Regions from separate parts of the Homo sapiens genome. Here region 1 is linked to region 2. Evidence: fine-mapped expression QTL. Tissue or cell type: whole blood. Region 2 holds a variant in brackets; the other region holds the start of a gene. All regions are shown on one strand. Distances are from middle to middle.

Evidence for each region. PIP is the estimated chance that this variant, and not a neighbour inherited with it, causes the effect.
Region 1: it holds the start of HDAC10, and the variant in region 2 is fine-mapped to the expression of HDAC10 in whole blood (INTERVAL, PIP 0.96).

What each region holds. Positions count from the first base shown.
Region 1 is chr22:50,247,120-50,255,119 of GRCh38, forward strand. HDAC10 (histone deacetylase 10) reads right to left here and starts at 4,146. Exons shown (of 20, transcript NM_032019.6): 1 at 3,855-4,146; 2 at 3,652-3,786; 3 at 3,308-3,404; 4 at 2,944-3,041; 5 at 2,741-2,845; 6 at 2,516-2,584; 7 at 2,209-2,335; 8 at 1,984-2,049; 9 at 1,712-1,771; 10 at 1,543-1,632; 11 at 1,247-1,353; 12 at 1,106-1,173; 13 at 771-1,026; 14 at 573-657. The coding sequence starts at 3,913. It overlaps MAPK12 (mitogen-activated protein kinase 12), which reads right to left. Exons shown (of 12, transcript NM_002969.6): 12 at 5,782-6,361. The coding sequence ends at 6,282. RefSeq lists enhancers at 411-1,333, 706-1,145, 2,491-3,337, 4,992-5,161 and a silencer at 3,842-4,501.
Region 2 is chr22:50,443,287-50,451,286 of GRCh38, forward strand. It overlaps PPP6R2 (protein phosphatase 6 regulatory subunit 2), which reads left to right. Exons shown (of 24, transcript NM_001242898.2): 23 at 580-831; 24 at 913-1,804. The coding sequence ends at 961. SBF1 (SET binding factor 1) reads right to left here. Exons shown (of 41, transcript NM_002972.4): 37 at 5,257-5,364; 38 at 4,947-5,158; 39 at 4,236-4,323; 40 at 4,036-4,167; 41 at 1,714-3,954. The coding sequence ends at 3,856. Among named protein-coding and RNA genes, the nearest start is that of SBF1, 28 kb to the right of the region's middle. RefSeq lists enhancers at 767-936, 1,315-2,161. The variant G/A (reference allele first, on the strand shown) is at 3,913.

The sequences.
Region 1 (8,000 bases), 200 kb before region 2:
AGATGCTTACGTCTATAATTTTTTTTTTTTTTTTTAGAGAGGCAGGGTCTCGTTCTGTAGCCAGGCTGGCGTGCAGTGGCGCAATTGTAGCTCACCACAGCCTCAAACTCCTGGGCTTAAGCGATCGTCCTGCCTCAGCCTCCTAAGTAACTACAGGCACACACCACCACGCTTGGCTGACTTTTTTATTTTTTGTGAAGACAGGGTCTCCATATGTTCTCTAGGCTGGTCTTGAACTCCTGGGCTCAAGCGTTTCTCCCACCTTGGCCCCCCAAACTGCCGTTATTACAGGCATGAGCCACTGCACCCTGCCTAAATGTATACTTTAAATCACCCCCTTCACCTCTCTGCCAAAGAGCATTTAACTGAAGAAGCTGAGGTCAGAGGTCAGACACACTAGTGATCCCCACCCCTGGGGCTGTTCTGGGAACAGTTCCTGGCACAAGGCAATGTTCACATCCATGTGGTTCTGCACCACCCAGCCCTCCTCTGGACAGGCCACATCTCGTTGGCAGGTCCTGGTCCCTGCCCCTAGGTCCACAGCATCCCCAACCCCTCCCAGGTGCTCCCACCTGCCCATCCAGCATCCCATCTAAGAGGTACAGGAGCTTCCCAAGTGCAGTGAGGGCCTCCTCCCGGGCCAGGGACTCGTGTGGCCTGTGGTGGACAGACCAGAGGGACACACAGACACGGAGTGACCGCAGGTCAGGCACACACAGGCACAGGTGTAGATGCGGCCCCATCCTTCTCCCCAGGCCAGCCCTGCCCACCTGGCCCAGGCTTCTGTCTCCTCCCTCAGGGCTGACGCTTCCTGTTGGATGACGTCAGGGGGCAGAACCAATGTGATATCCGGCGTTGTCAGGGCAACAGCGGTGCGGACAGAGGGTGCGGGGCAGAGGCACGGCTGGTCCAGGAGGGAGCTCGGTGCAGATGCAGCTGCCTTACACACTGGACCCCCAGGCAGCAGAGGTGGAGGCCTCCCCTCTGGGGAGTGGCTGCTGGGGCTCATCGGCACAGCGGTCACATCTAGGGACAGTTCGGAGTCATAGCCACTGCACAGGAGCCCGAGGTGGGATCCTGCAGCCTAGCACCCGGCCACACTGACCTTGCTGCTGGAGGCTCTTCCAGTGCGGGGCCTGGGCAGCACGGGCACTCTGGATGGACTCTAGGGCACTGTGAGGGAGACACAACAGTCGTGACACCTGGTCTCACACCCCGGCCCTGCCCGCCCTACCTCCCCTCGCACCTCTGACATGGCGCCATTGGCCCTGACAGGGGTGGGGCCGGGTCACCCAGCAGCGTCTGTACTGTCATGCACACTGACTCCGCCAGTGACTCCAGGTGGTAGCCGCCCTGGGAGGAGGGTGGAGACATGATTGGGGCAGAGATATCACTGGGATGGGATGTCACCGGGAGAGCCCCTGCCTGGCTCTATCCCGGGCAGGACGCCCCTCCCAAATACCCCGTGGGCACCTGGCTCCCATGCTCCTGACCCCCAGGCCTCTGGCCCAGAGACCCTCCCTGTGTGCCCTCCCCAGTCACCTCCAGCACGGCACAGACCCGGCCGCCGGCCAGCACCTGCAGCAGCTGTGTGAGGTGGGCGAAGCACTCTGGCGTGGCCTGCATTTGCCCCTGGAACCAGAGCCATGTGTGATGGGGGACCTGGGCCCCAGGACCCCAGAAGCCCTCCCTGGCAAGGCAAGGCCCTCACCTCAGGGTCCCCGATGGCTGAGTCAAATCCTGCCGAGACCAGCACCAGCTCAGGGTCAAACTACAGGCCAGGCCGGAGTGGGGAGGGTCGACAGAGAGGGGCTGGAGCCCAGGTGAGGGCGAGCCAGGCCCATCCCATCCCCTCCTGAGCACCTTCCCCAGCCACACAGGAGTGGGACAGCTCATAACCCTCCTCCTGCCTTCACTGGCGCACTCCAGGCACAAGGTCCCCCTCCCACCCGGCTGCCCTGGGGGAGCCCTCCGTGCAGTCACCTCAAAGGCCAGTGGGAGCAGCAGGTGCAGGAAGGCAGCCACGTAGTCAGCGTTTCCCATCCCAACCTGGCAGGACATCCCAGGCTACATCCTGAACTGTGGGGCAGGGGAGGGGCCCGGGGGAGGGGGTGGGTGGGGACCTGGGGCTTGAGGGTGAACTGTGGGGGAGGGGAGGGGCCCAGGGGGAGGGGGCTGGGTGGGGACCTGGGGCTTGAGGGTGGGCACCTGGTTCCAGGGCAGGTTGACAGTGAAGCCGAGGCCCTGTCCCCGCCCCACTGCGTCTGCATCTGACTCTCGCAGGAAAGGCCAGAAGCGCCCATGCTCATAGCGGTGCCAGGAGAAGTAAAGGACGCTGCCAACAGCCAGCCAGGGCCAGAGGTCAAAGGTCAGGACCCTCAACAGCTCTACAGCTCCCTGTAGAACGCTGACCCCTGAGCACATGTCTGTATCTCACCCCTGGATTTTCCCAGGCCAGGCTGTGCACCCAAAAACTGGGGCTGCAGGGAAGGGTGGTTTCCGCACCCCTGCTCACCTGGGGTCATCCTCAAAGAGATACTGGATCCCCTGGCCATGGTGCACATCCCAGTCCACGACGAGGATCCTGGGTACAGACAGCGCTGGTGGCAAAGGGGCAGGGCCTCCCACCTCCAGGAGCCCGGCCAGGGATGGGAAGGTGCTGGCTGGGTTCTCTCGCCTCCTGCGCTGCCCCTTGCTGTGTGGCCTGGGCCCACCCCCCTGCAGCCAGCCTGGCACACACCTGTGTAGCCCGTGTTTCTGCTTGGCATGTGCAGCTGCTATGGCCACGTTGTTGAACACACAGAACCCGTTGGCAGCCGCCCTCTGGCCATGGTGCCCGGGAGGCCTACGGCGTGAGAGTAGGATTTGGGTCACGTCAGGGTCGCCCTGGCCCCTCACAGGGCCACCCACGGAGGAGCAGCCAGGGGAAGGGGCAGCTCTCACCTCACCAGGGCAAGCCCATTTTGCACAGCTCCAGTGAGCACAGCGTCCACCAGCTGCAGTCCAGCCCCTGCGGCCAGCCGCGCGCAGTGAAAGGTACTCTGTGGGCGCAGGGGCGCAGATGAGCCCCCTGCCTTCCCTGCTGCCCTTTGCAGGCCATACCCACACTTGTGCCAGGCTGCAAGACACCAGCTGCTGAGCAGAACAGGCCAGCCCCAGGCTCTGGCAGTGCCAGCAGGCAGGTGTGCAGGGCAATGTCATGTGTATGGACCAGGGGACACTGGCTGGGGTTGGCGGCCGTGGCTGTGAACGCTCAAAGGCACGTGCATGTGTGTCTGCACAGGTGAGTGTGTCCGGGGACACGCACCGGGTGGAAGTAGATGGCGTCGAACTGTCCGGACAGCGCCTGCAGCTCCTCCTTGCCTAGGACCTGGGTCTCCCTGACCAGGGATACATACTCTGGGCTGCATGCAGATGGGCAGGCAGGAGAGGCAGGGTCACCAGCAGGAGCAGGGGGGCGGGAGGCGGGGACCTGGGATTCATGGTGGGAGTGGCCACCCTGTCACTTCCTCAAGCCTGTGAGCCCACCCGAGGTGCATAGGGAGAGGCTCTGTATTCGAGGCTGGCAGGCTCGGGGTAGGCCCAGGTTCTTAGGTTTCTAGCTGGGCTGCCCGCCCCGCCCCCCATCGTGGGGCCTGCCCCCGTCCTGACCTGTGCACCAGGCCCAGCTCCTCTTCCGAGGCCTCGCGGGCTGACAACCGCAGACACCTCTGTTCCAGGCCGCGCTGCCGCAGGCGATCCAGGGCTGCGGTCAGGCGCTCAGGACGCTCGATCTCGCACTCGGGGCTGGGGCAGATGAGGAGCTCAGTTCAGAGGTCCCTCCCCGCACCCCACCTCGGCCAGGTCCCACTTACTCGTCCCAGAGCAGCCGGGTGGCCGTCATGTCCTCATGGTACACAAGCGCGGTCCCCATGGCTGCGCCGTGGTCACCCTGGGTTCCCAAACGCCCTCGCTAGTGGTGCCTGCCACTGCCTGTCCCCACCTTCGGCCGGGAGCAGCCGGAGGCCTGGGACCTGCCTGGGGCGCAGGCGGGCGGCGGGCACCGGCCTGGGCGGGAGCGCACAGAACCTAGGCAGGCTCCGGGATCCCAGGCGCGCAGAAGGCACGGAGCGAGGCTGCAGTCGAAGGGGGAGGCTCCCCGCGCCTGGCTTCCGGCTTCCTCGCCTCGGACCTGGGTCCCGCCCCGCGCCCTGCTCCCGGTCGCTATCGCGAGCTCCGCCCCGGAGCGAGGAACCAGCGGGCGCGGAAGCCTCGGCGCCCCGAGCCGCCAGCCCTCGGAGCTGCGCTGCGGCTCCGCCTCCCCATTGGCCCCGCCCCGATCCCCTCCAAGAGGGGCGGGGTCCCCCGGCCTTAGGCGAGTGGTCGCCGCAGCCCCACCCGAACGCCCGTGGCCGAGCCTGCCCATGAGAGCCCCGTTCTGCACCAGCTGGGTCAGGGTCCAGCGCAGCCCCAAGGCCCACCCGGCCCGGGCGCAGGAAGACCTGGGGTGAAAGGCGAGGGGGGCGAGGGGTCTGCAGGGCAAAGGCCACGAGGCGGGAGGAGCCCGCGGGGAGGCAGGTGGCGCTGCGGCCGGCTCAGGGCGGTGGTCGTGGCTGCATGGAGGCGCAGCACCGCCCCCGAGGTTTAAGGAGGGAGTGAGTCCGGTTCTAGCTCCAAGAAGACCCCTGGCCCAAGAGCAGAGTCAAGGTCGGTGGAGGTGGGGACACTGGACCGGGGTTGCGGTAGCATGGTGGGGGACTGAGGAAGATAGGAGGCACGGGCACAGCCACGGAGGAAGATGCCCGAGAGGAAACCTGAGGCCCCCTGGAGCCCAGGGGACACCCTGCCCCCGCGGGAGTTCACATCCAGCTGGGTCACAGAATTTTGGGGCCCCCAGTCCTCAGGCCACCTATGGGCCCACACTTTGGGCCCAGTGTGGACAGCAGCCATGCCACAAGTCAGCGTGGCTCCGGAACTGATGGCGATCACGTCCCCCAGGCCCGGATGCCCTGGAGAGGCATGAGGGTCGCTGGGCAGAGAAGGCCCATCTGTCGTGGCAGCTCATCAGGTCCACTTTGGCTGGGCCAGCTGTGGGCATGTCCACCGAGGACACCTGGCCTGCCCTGCCCTGCCCCTCACTGGTCTCTCTGCTGTAACCCCTGCCCTGGGACAGGTTTGGAGGTGCCCATGGCCTGTGTTCCAGCCGCCACCCTTGGAAACACCGAGTGGCCTGCAGAGGGCGGCCTGGGCACGAAGATACCACTGGAGCAGGGTAGTAGGGGCTAGAGGTTTGATCAAGAATAAAACCCAGCCCTCTGCGCTCACCAATCCACCACAGGGGCCAGAGGGGTCTCAACATGTCCAATGTGCCCCGTCCCCCCAGGGACTGGCTGGCGCTCACCACTTCACCACAGGGGTCTCAACGTGCCCAGCGTGCCCCCTCCCCCCAGGGACCTGCTGGCATTGGAGGATGCAGAGAGCTAGGGTAGATCCTAACACTCCTCCCCATCAGGCCCTGCCCCTGGGTCTGGCTTCAGGATCCACACACAGTGGCTTAGAGTCTAAGCCATTAGCAGGTCACCCCGTAAAAGGGGAGGGGCCAAGCCCTAACGTGGGGGTTCGAAGATCACTGGCACAGGCCTGGGGGAAGTGGGCACCAGCTTTGTGGCCTGGGAGAGATGGGATGCTCAGGCCCCCCTCCTGGCTCTAAGGGTCTGAGCTATCAGGCCAGCCTCCTCTACATGCAGGCCAAGGGCCCGGAGGTCTTAAGGTGGGACCCGGCATGAGGACGCACAGCCAGAACAGGGAGCTACAAAAGGGTCTATTTCCTTCCAGCCACGCGGGCACCACACAGCTGATTTACATTCCAGGCTGGGGGTGCAGGAAGGTCCACTGACGTCGCCCAGGAGAGGGGATGTCCCTGAGTTGGTGCCCTGCGCCCACCCTCTGTCCTTCCTCTGCATGGCCCAGAGCAGGCAGGGCTCAGAGGCCAAGGCCTGATCTGGAGCCCCACCAGCTCTGAGGTTTCTGAGAGCACCGGGCAAGTGGGCCACTGCTCCAGGGATCAGAGGCCATCCCCAGGTCGGCCAGAGGTCTTGTCCAGAAAGTTCAGGTGCTCCTCCATGATGGGCGCCCAAGAGCAGAGGCATGGCCGTGGGGAGGAGGGTCCATGGAACCCGGGCGTCTGCTCTGATGGATGCCTTGGGATGCAAGCCCCAGCCAAGGTCAAGGTGGCAACGAGAGTCCCCTCTCAGGTGGAAGGTGAAGGTGGTCCTCACTGCCACCCCGGAGCCCAGAGATCTTCACAGAGGCGTCTCCTTGGAGACCCTGGCCCCCAGCTGCCGGGGAGGCTTGAAGCTGAGCACCTCTTTGTAAGTAACACCTGGCGGGGGTGGGGGGGCGGGCACAACAGAGAGGGGGGTCAGCCTTTGCCTTCCATCCTGGGAGTCGCTCACAGACACGCCTGGCGGTGCCTCGTGGGGCCCTTCTCTAATCCTAATGTGGTCTGAACCACTGAGAGAAGGTTTGTGTGAAGAGGCCATTGCTCTAGATCTGGATTTTCCAGGGAAAGGGGAGGTGGCCAGGGCTTGGCCACATGTCCACCACGGTCTGTCCTAAGAGCTGAGGCCTCAGCCACAGTTGTGTGGGTGGGGACTACAGAGAGGATCCTATGGCCCATGGCTTTCAAGTTATCTTTCTAGCAGCAGAAACCTTTAATCAAACAAAGCCAAACTCATAAGCACACGAATATGCACACAGCGAAGGGTGGAGGCCCTGCTGCGGGCACCCAGGGACCCGTGGTCGTAAGGAGCACATGTGAATCTCAACCCATCCAGCCCCACCCAGCCAGTGTGGAGGACCAAGGTCCCGCACCCGAGGCAGAGCCAGGACAGGGCCTGAAACATGGCACGGCTCCCAGTGTACACCTACTTTCCCCGGGCACACCCACCCCAGGCTGGTCATGCAGCCATGAAGAAGACACAGCCTGCCATCCTGGAGCAGAAATGAAGCCAGGTCCAGCACAGCCTCAGGCCGCAGCATAGCTGCGGGAGCTGGGGAGGCTTCTCTGAGTCCAGCCTGAGGCTGCACAGGCTTTGGCCAGCCCTCCAAGTTGAGGGGATAGCCCCTGGTATAGGGGATGATGGACCCCAGCAGTTGGGGTTGGAGTCTGGACTGCTTAGCGGGGGCTGGGGGAGACAGGCGAGGCCCTGGGGACTGTCTTGGGTATACAGTTGTCCAGGGGGGAGGGATCCTAAAGTGGGGCAAGGAGAGGGCTGGGCGCGGTGGCTCACGCCTGTAATCCCAGCACTTTGGGAGGCCGAGGCGGGCGGATCACGAGGTCAGGAGATCGAGACCATCCTGGCTAACACGGTGAAACCCCGTCTCTACTAAAAATACAAAAAATTAGCCAGGCCTGGTGGCGGGCGCCTGTAGTCCCGGCTACTCGGGAGGCTGAGGCAGGAGAACGGTGTGTACCCGGGAGACGGAGCTTGCAGTGAGTCAAGATCGTGCCACTGCCCTCCAGCCTGGGCATCAGAGTGAGACTCCGTCTCAAAAAACAAAAATGGGGCAAGGAGAGGCAAGGACAGATTCAGGAGGTGTGAGCAGAGAGGCCTTAGGGACAAGCGGACGTGGTGAGGGTGTCAGGGTGGCCCAGGTCTCTGGCCTGGACATGGCGGAAGGGCAGCAGGTCTGGGGGCCAGGAGGGGCTAAGTGGGCCCTGGTTCCCTGACTCACAGCTGCCTTTCACCACTCCCGGCTCCTTCTGTGCCAGCCTCTGTGCTGAGCCTGCCAGGAACACCCTTCCCTTCAACTTCCAGCTCCAGCCAGAGGTCATCTCCACCAGGCCACACGGCCCCATGCTGCCCTGACCTCCCATCCTCCTCACCTGACCTGCATCCCAGGGATGGGGATCTAGGACTCTGAGCCTGGCCACCTGCACAGGGCCCACAGGGTCCACACAGGCCCTACCCGGAGCCCCCAACTCACGGGTCCACACAGGCCCTACCCGGAGCCCCCAA
Region 2 (8,000 bases):
AGCCCTGCCTGCACCGTCGTCACGGCCCAGCCTGCAGGTGAGCTTCCTCGCGCCCCCGCCTGACCTGAGTGCCCCTCCCTCAGTCAGACACAGTGTCGTCGCCCTGCAGGAAGCCAGGGGGCCCGTCTGCTGCTCGTGGCCAGGCTGGGCCTTGGGGTGCCCGACCCCCTCCAGAGCAAGCCCCTTAGATGCCCGGCAGGGTCCTCTCTACCCTCCCATCCCCTGGGAGGTTTCCCCAGACTGTGTCCAGTGTGAGGCTGAAGTTGAGATCATAGCACAGGAGGCTCTGGGGTCCTTGAAGAATGAGGCGCTTGATGATGAGCAGGATCTGAGTGCTGCCTGGAGGAGGTTTGAGGTCATCAATGGACAGGCAGCTTGTCCCAGTACTTGGAACTTGGGGCAGCAGAGCTGCCTAGCTGGGCACAACCTGGGCCACCCCACAAAGGGCAGGAGTGAGAGGGGCCAAAGATGGTGCTCCCAGGCCGCCTGGACCTTTTTGTCCAGCTGGTCCTTGGGCATGAGGCGGGGTGGCACTGAGGGTGGGGGTGCCCGTAACCGGAGTCCATGTTTGCCACACAGGGTCGGGTGTGCTGACAGCCGGCTGTTAAGCCCTGCCTGCCCCGCGCCAAAGGAAGTGACTGCTGCCCCAGCCGTGGCTGTGCCCCCCGAGGCTACTGTGGCCATCACCACAGCACTGAGCAAGGCTGGCCCCGCCATACCCACCCCAGCAGTCTCTTCTGCACTGGCCGTGGCGGTCCCCCTAGGGCCCATCATGGCAGTCACAGCAGCCCCAGCCATGGTGGCCACCCTGGGGACAGTGACAAAGGACGGGTGAGCAGGTTGAGTGTGGGGGTAGGGGGTGTGGACAGGGCCCGCAGCCCGCACGGTTCCAACCCCACCCCATTCCTGCAGGAAGACAGATGCCCCGCCAGAAGGAGCTGCCTTAAATGGCCCAGTGTGATGCTGCTGCCGCCCGGCCACGGCCCACCCTGGTCAGGCTGCCTCCTTAATCGAGAAAACTACCTGGTGATGCAATCTTTTTTTTTTTTAATTTAATTTAATTTTAAAATAAATGCTGCATTGGTAAAGCTGGCAGTTGAAACCAGTTGGACGGCCCAGCTTGCGTCTCTTCTGCCTGAGTGGGCCTCTCAGGTCACTCGTGCCCTGCTGGAGGACAGAGGGGCACCTCAGCCGCCCCCAAGCCCAGAGCACAGCAATAAGGTCGGCCTGCAGGAGCCGGGGTGGGGGTGGGGGTGGGGGGGGCAGGACCCTGAGATGCCACCAGGACCTGATGGGCCAGGAAGGGCGTGGACATGGAGGCTGTTTTTACAGTTTTTTTTTTGTTGTTGTTTTGTTTTTAAAGAATACAGAAGGAGCCAAGCTTTTTTGCACTTTGTATCCAGCTGCAAGCTCAGGGCAGAGTCAAGGGCCTGGGTTGGAAAAACCTGACTCACAGGAATGCATAATTGACCCTTGCAGCTACCCAATAGCCCTTGGAGCTGGCACTGAACCAGGCTGCAAGATTTGACTGCCTTAAAAACACAAGGCCCTCTAGGCCTGGCAGGGATGTCCCTGTGCCCAGCACAGGGTGCCTGGCAGGGGGAGACCACAGGTATGCAGGTGGGGGGACATGGTGTGGCACTAGGGGCTCGAAGACTGGTTTCTAGCACTACCGGTCACGGCCATGTCGTCCTAGAAGGGTCCAGAAGATTATTTTACGTTGAGTCCATTTTTAATGTTCTGATCACCTGACAGGGCACCCCAAACCCCCAACTCCCAATAAAAGCCGTGACGTTCGGACAAACCGCGTACTGTGAACCTTCCGGCCCCAAAGCCCCGGCCCGGCCAGGGGTGGGAGAGTCTCCTCCAGCACCTCTTTTGTGGGCCCGCCACCCCCCAGCGTTATCCCCGTGTAATGGGTGGAGGCGGAACAGGCCACATCACGGCATCAGGTCTCTACAGCTTAGCAAATACTGACATTTTTCCGTTTGGGGGATGGGGGGAACCACTTCGCCTAACGCTCAAACACATCAACCCCAGGACTTCCTTTTGTGCCAGCTCCCCCTCCCAGAAGCCTGGGCCCCACCTTGTCCTCAGTGGCTGAGTGGGAGGGGCAGGTGGAGACCAGACCCCCACCCCGCCCCAGCGAGCTTGTCTTTCCACCACGGTTGGGGGTGGAGGGAACCCGCTCAGCTCCCCAGAGGCCGAGTCTCTGCCCCAGCTACACATTGAGTGCCTTGTTCTCGCCGCCTACCCTGTGCCTGGCATTTGTCCTCTCCCCCCACAGACGTGGAACAGGGAGGGCAGGGTCCTTTCTCCCCTTACTCTGACCTGTGGGTTTTCCAGGTGCCAGGAACTTCGGTCAGGCGCCATCTGTCCGGCCTGAGGGAAGACCTGGCTGGTTTCAGTGGCTCAAGTGAGCCCACCCTCACATCTCGCCCAGGTGTCCCAACACCACCTGTGGGGTGGGGGAGGTGGCGGGACCATGCTGGGCCTGACAGGGTCCAAGGCCATCCTTGGCTTCAACGTCCCACCAGGGGAGGGTCTTGGCCCCCCACCTGCCAGCACTGGGCCCTGCCTCTGCAGCTGTCATCAGAACCTTCCCCTCACCCACACCTGCTGCTCGCCTCCCACCTGAGAGGACCACCTGAGGGACCCAGCCTCTAGCCAGGTTCTCTGCCCCTCACCAGCCCCTCTGGCCAGGTCACCAGCTGCCACTCTCAGATGTTCTCTTGGCCTTTGCAGCGTCTATAACCCTCCCCACCTTCTGCTCCTGCACCCCTGGCCAGGCCTCGTCACAGGCAAGGACACAACAGCTCAGCAGGTGAAGCCCTGGGCCTGGTGGGACTCAGGTTTGAATAGGAAAAGAGCAGTGAGGGGCCACAGTGACACCAAGAAGGGAAGGACGGGGGCCCTCTGAGACCCCAGGGAAAGGACTTTTGGGGCAGAATTCCCAAGAACTGAGAGGGTCCATCCCCCATGGGCGTTGGCCCCTTACTCTGCCAGATGCTGCTCGTTGCCTGGCAGGAGCCAGATGTGGTCAACCTGCATTCCCCTGGGAGCCCACTGTCCCCCCCCCCCCCCCGCCTCCGGCCTCCATCCCTTCAGCTCGGGTCTAGCCAGAAACTGACGTCCACCTCAAGTGTCCTCTGGACCTGCAACAGCCTTCTGGGGTCAAATGACCACCCACCCTTTCACCCCCAAGCCTCTGTGAGGTCAGCTTCTGCATCCCCTGGGTAGGGATGGGGGCTTCCTCTCCAGCCGTGCCGGCCCCTAGACCAGCCCTGAGGCGTGGAGGGAATCAAGCAAGTCCCCAGTGAAGCCTCCTGCTCGATCCGCCCCCAGAGCAAAGTCACTCCCAGGGACATGCAGGCCGAGCTGGGTGGACCCAGGCACCAGGAGAGGCTCACGAGAAAGATGCCAACCTCCCGCCAGGTGGGCCTGGATAGGGGCAGATGGGACCCTCTGGGTAGGCCGAGAGCAGGCAGCCGGGGAGTGGGGAAGGCAGGCACAGGAGCGTGGCGTTAGTTCTCTCTTTATATAGACTCTGGTTCTAGAAACTCGCCTGCAGCCGCTGGCTGGACCAGCACACGCTGACGGGGCCGGACTATTTACAGGCCCATTGCGGGCTGTACCTTGGCCACCTCCCGGCACGGTGCTCAGCTGTGACGCCAAAATAAGTTAGGGCCGGCCGGGCGGGGCGGGGCGGGGACGGGGGCTGTACACACAAGTGCTGGGGGCTCGGGGCCTCAATACTGTCGAGGGCCGGGGCTGTAAACATGGCCGGGGCGGCCCTGCCCACCCCTAGTGGTCGGTAACGACCGGAAGCAGAGCAGCCGGGCAGGGCTGGGAGGCTCAGGCGTCCGACAGGCAGCTCTGGATCCGGTCCACCCACTGCTGGGCCGAGGGCAC[G/A]TCCTGGGCACAGAAGTTGTAAACGCGACGCGTTGTCTTCACCTGGGGAAGGGCGGGTTACTGACTCCGCAGCCCCCACACCGCAGAGCCCCTCCCCTCTCCCAAGCCCCGGCCAAGGCTCACGTCAAAGAAGGCCTTCTCGTCCACAGTCTTAGGGGCACCCATAGTGGGCGTGCCAGGTGCCACAGCCTCCACCTCCGCCAAGTCGATGACACCCTTGCACTCTGTGTCCACACGGTGGTCGTAGTAGCGCAGCTGGAGGAGGCCACAGAGTCAGCGGAGCCCCCTCCCCCGTGAGTCCCCCCCACCACCTGATCACTCACCTGGTGCTTGGTCTTGTCCAGCACGAACCAGCGGGCCTTCCAAGGCTTCATGAAGGCCCCCTTCTTGTACAGAGTGCCCTCGTAGGACCTGCATTTCCAGCAGAACCAGGGCCAGGCTGACCGTCATGGCCCAGCCAAGCCCAGGCCCCAGCAGTCGTCCCCCCCTTGCTGTCCCAGCCCAGGAGGTAAGACCAGGCACCCTGTCCCCAGAACTGACCTAAGCCCAGAGCACTGGCCAGGGGGCCACAAAGAAGCCTTTGATGGGGGGCTGCAGGCCCAAGAAGACGACGCCCAGAAAGGAGACAGTGAAGGGCGCCTCACACCCTCCAGACTCCAGGGAGCATCCCCACACCAGAGCCTCAGGGTCTTGGGAAAGCAGCCCCCTACACAGGGCAGGCGCCCTTACGAGGAGAGGGATGGCCAGGCAGGTAGATCTGTAGAAGCAGCCACGGCAGCAGCTGCCTGGGATGGATCCTGCCAGACTCCAGACTCACGGGGGCCCCACCACTGCCCTCTCTCTACTCCTCCCTCAGCCACTGCAGGCTGTGGTCAGCTGTGGTCACCAGTTCGACACCCCAAACCCCTCCCAGTGGTGGTGTATACTTAAGCAAGCTCCTCAAAAGCACCCGCAATCTCCCACCAGAGGACTGCCTGGGACCCCAGAACACCAGCTCAGAGGTGTCCATGTGGCAGTGGGAGGTGCCCTCATACCTGTTCTCACTCTCTGCTGTCTGGAACTGGCTGTACAGGGTGCTGGTGCTGCGGCGGGCAGCCTGACGGGAGCCGGATGTGGTTGAGCCACTACTCTGGTCGCTGTCCAGGCTGAGGCTCAGGGTGGAGCCCACGGGCCCCTCCTGCAGGTACACACCCAGCGAGCGACGGTGGTGGGGTGCGGTGGACACAAGGAGGGAGCTAGGGGTGCCCTGGGAACAGGAGGTTGGGACTTGGGTCAGGGCTGGACAGACTCCACTTTCTCCCAGCAACACGCCCACCGTGGACGCTCACACTGGCCCTCACTCACACGGCCGTCTGGCCGGCCCTCGAGGCGCTGTGCAGCCTTCACCCGGTCCCAGGTGTCCTTCCAGCGCTCAGCGGGTTGGCCCAACTCTGTCTCCAGCCTCTGCAGCTCCTGGGGGAAGAATTAATGGCAAGTTTATTCAAAAGGAAATATCCAGACTAGAGCACGAAAAGACAAAAGGAAAACACAGGAAAGAGACACAACGGAAAGGCCTAACGCGTGTGTGACTGGCCACAGGGGGAGGTGGCAAGAGGGAGGGAAGGAATATGCAAAATGAATATTCGGAGACAACAGTTGAAAAATTTCCCAAACTAACCAGAGGCATCAAACAACATAATCAAGAAGCACTACAGACCCCAACAGGGTAAGTTAAAAACACACACCCCGGCCAGGCGTGGTGGCTCACGCCTGTAATCCCAGCACTTTGGGAGGCCGATCACCTGAGGTCAGGAGTTTGAGACCAGCCTGACAAACATGGAGAAACCGCATCTCTACTAAAAATACAAAAAGTTAGCCCAGCATGGTGGCGCACGCCTGTAGGAGAATCGCTTGAACCTGGGAGGCGGAGGTTGCGGTGAGCCGAGAACGCGCCACTGCACACCAGCATGGGCAACAAGAGCAAAACTGCTTCTCAAAAAAAAAAAAGACCACACAATACTGATCTTCAACACTGCAGGGTCCACAATGTCCAGCTTACAATAAAAGAACAGCAGAAAAATGGAGAAAAACATTAAAATAGACCCTGAAATGAAACAGGAGTTAGAACATACAGTAAATTCAAGAGAGTGATTTTAGGGCCAGGCGCGGTGGCTCACGCCTGTAATCCCAGCACTTTGGGTGGCCGAGGCGGGTGGATCACGAGGTCAGGAGTTCAAGACCAGCCTGGCCAAGATGGTGAAACCCCAACTCTACTAAAAATACAAAAATTAGCCGGACGCAGTGGCAGGCACCAGTAATCCCAACTACTCAGGAAGCTGAGGCAGGAGAATCACTTAAACTCAGGGGGCGGAAGTTGCAGTGAGCCGAGATCACACCACTGCCCTCCAGCCTGGGCGGCAAAGTGAGATTCTGTCTCAAAACACACAAACACACACACACACACACACACACACACACACCCCAAAATGGGACAGAAAAACTGCTGAAAAACAAAGAGAAAAGTCCCAAAACCTGCCAGAAGAAAAAAAGACATGCTCTCTTTGAAAGAGCAACAATAAAACTGACGGCTGACTTCAAAAGAGAAACACGAGGCCAACTGTCAACTTCCAGCCATGACAGATAATTAGTCTGAACAGCCCTCCCTCCATATGCAAATGATGAAACTGGACAAGAAGGGGAAGCCGTTGTTTCCAGATGTCAGACAAGCAGTGCAGCTTGAGAGACAGGAGCCTAAGACATGGGACCACATAAGATGGGCCCCACAGTCACCTGTTTTCTGCCCAGCCACAGTGCAGGGAGGCAGGGCCAGAGCAACACACGGGAGCTTGCTGAGCCGAGGAGGCAGAGACGGGACGTCCAGGGGCGCTAGTGCAGCTGGGTCTGCAGGGCAGCCCACAGAGGGGAGGGAGCACCACAGCAAAGGGGCTCTAGAAATCTAGACAGAGCCCTCCTTGAGTCGTTGGCCAAATTAGGCTGCCATGTGCAAAGCAAGATGTCACAAGGCCTGGCAGAGAACAGCTACTAAGAAGCTATGACCTGACGCCGGCAGCAGTGGCTCACACCTGTAATCCCAGCACTTTGGGAGGCCAATGCGGGTGGATAACCTGAGGTCAGGAGTTCAAGACCAGCCTGGTAAACATGGCAAAACCCTGTCTCTACTAAAAATACAAAAATTAGCTGGGCATGGTGGCGGGCACCTGTAATCCCAGCTACTCGGGAGGCTGAGGCAGGAGAATTGCTTGAACATGGGAAGTGGAGGCTGCAGTGAGCCGAGAGTGCGCCACTGCACTCCAGCCTGGGAGACAAAGTGAGACTCTGCCTCAAAAAAAAAAAAACAAAACTATGAGCTGAACCCAAATTCTAGAGGAATGCTAAAAGATACTGGACTTCCAAAAAGCCAGTGTGGCAAGACCTTACCGAAGACACAAAGACACAAAACTCCAACTGAAGCCCTGGAGAGGCCACACGCCTTGGGCTGCTCTATCCCTGGAGCTTCTCTAGAGGTGCTGGAGAGCTGCCCAAACAAAGCTTAGAAACAAGCTTCAAACAGACCAAGCTGACGCACAAGCTCATTACCTACCTGCGAGAATAAAACCCAAGACTCTAAGCTTAAAGAAAGACAACACAGGCAGGGCACAGTGGCTCCCGCCTGTAAGCCCAGCACTTCGGGAGGCCGAGGAGGGAGAATCGCTTGACCCAAGGAGTGTGAGAACAGCTTGGGCAACATGGCAAGACCCCATCTTTATATATATTTTTAAGTTATGTTTCAAGATTTAAAAGAAAAGATGGACATAATGGTTTATCAGATGGGGAATCTCTACAATAAAAAGCGTTAAATTCATTAGATGGGGCCGGGTGTGGTGGCTCATGCCTGTAATCCCAGCACTTTAGGAGGCCAAGGTGAGAGGACTGCTTGAGCCCAGGAGTTTGAGACCTGCCTGGGTGACATAGGGAGACCCCATCTCTACAAAAAAAAAAAAAAAAAAAAAAAAAAAGTAGCCGGCACGTGGCCCACGCCAGTAGTCTTGGCAACTCAAGAGGCTGAATGAAGCAGGATGATTGTTTGAGCCTGGGAGGTTCGGGCTGCA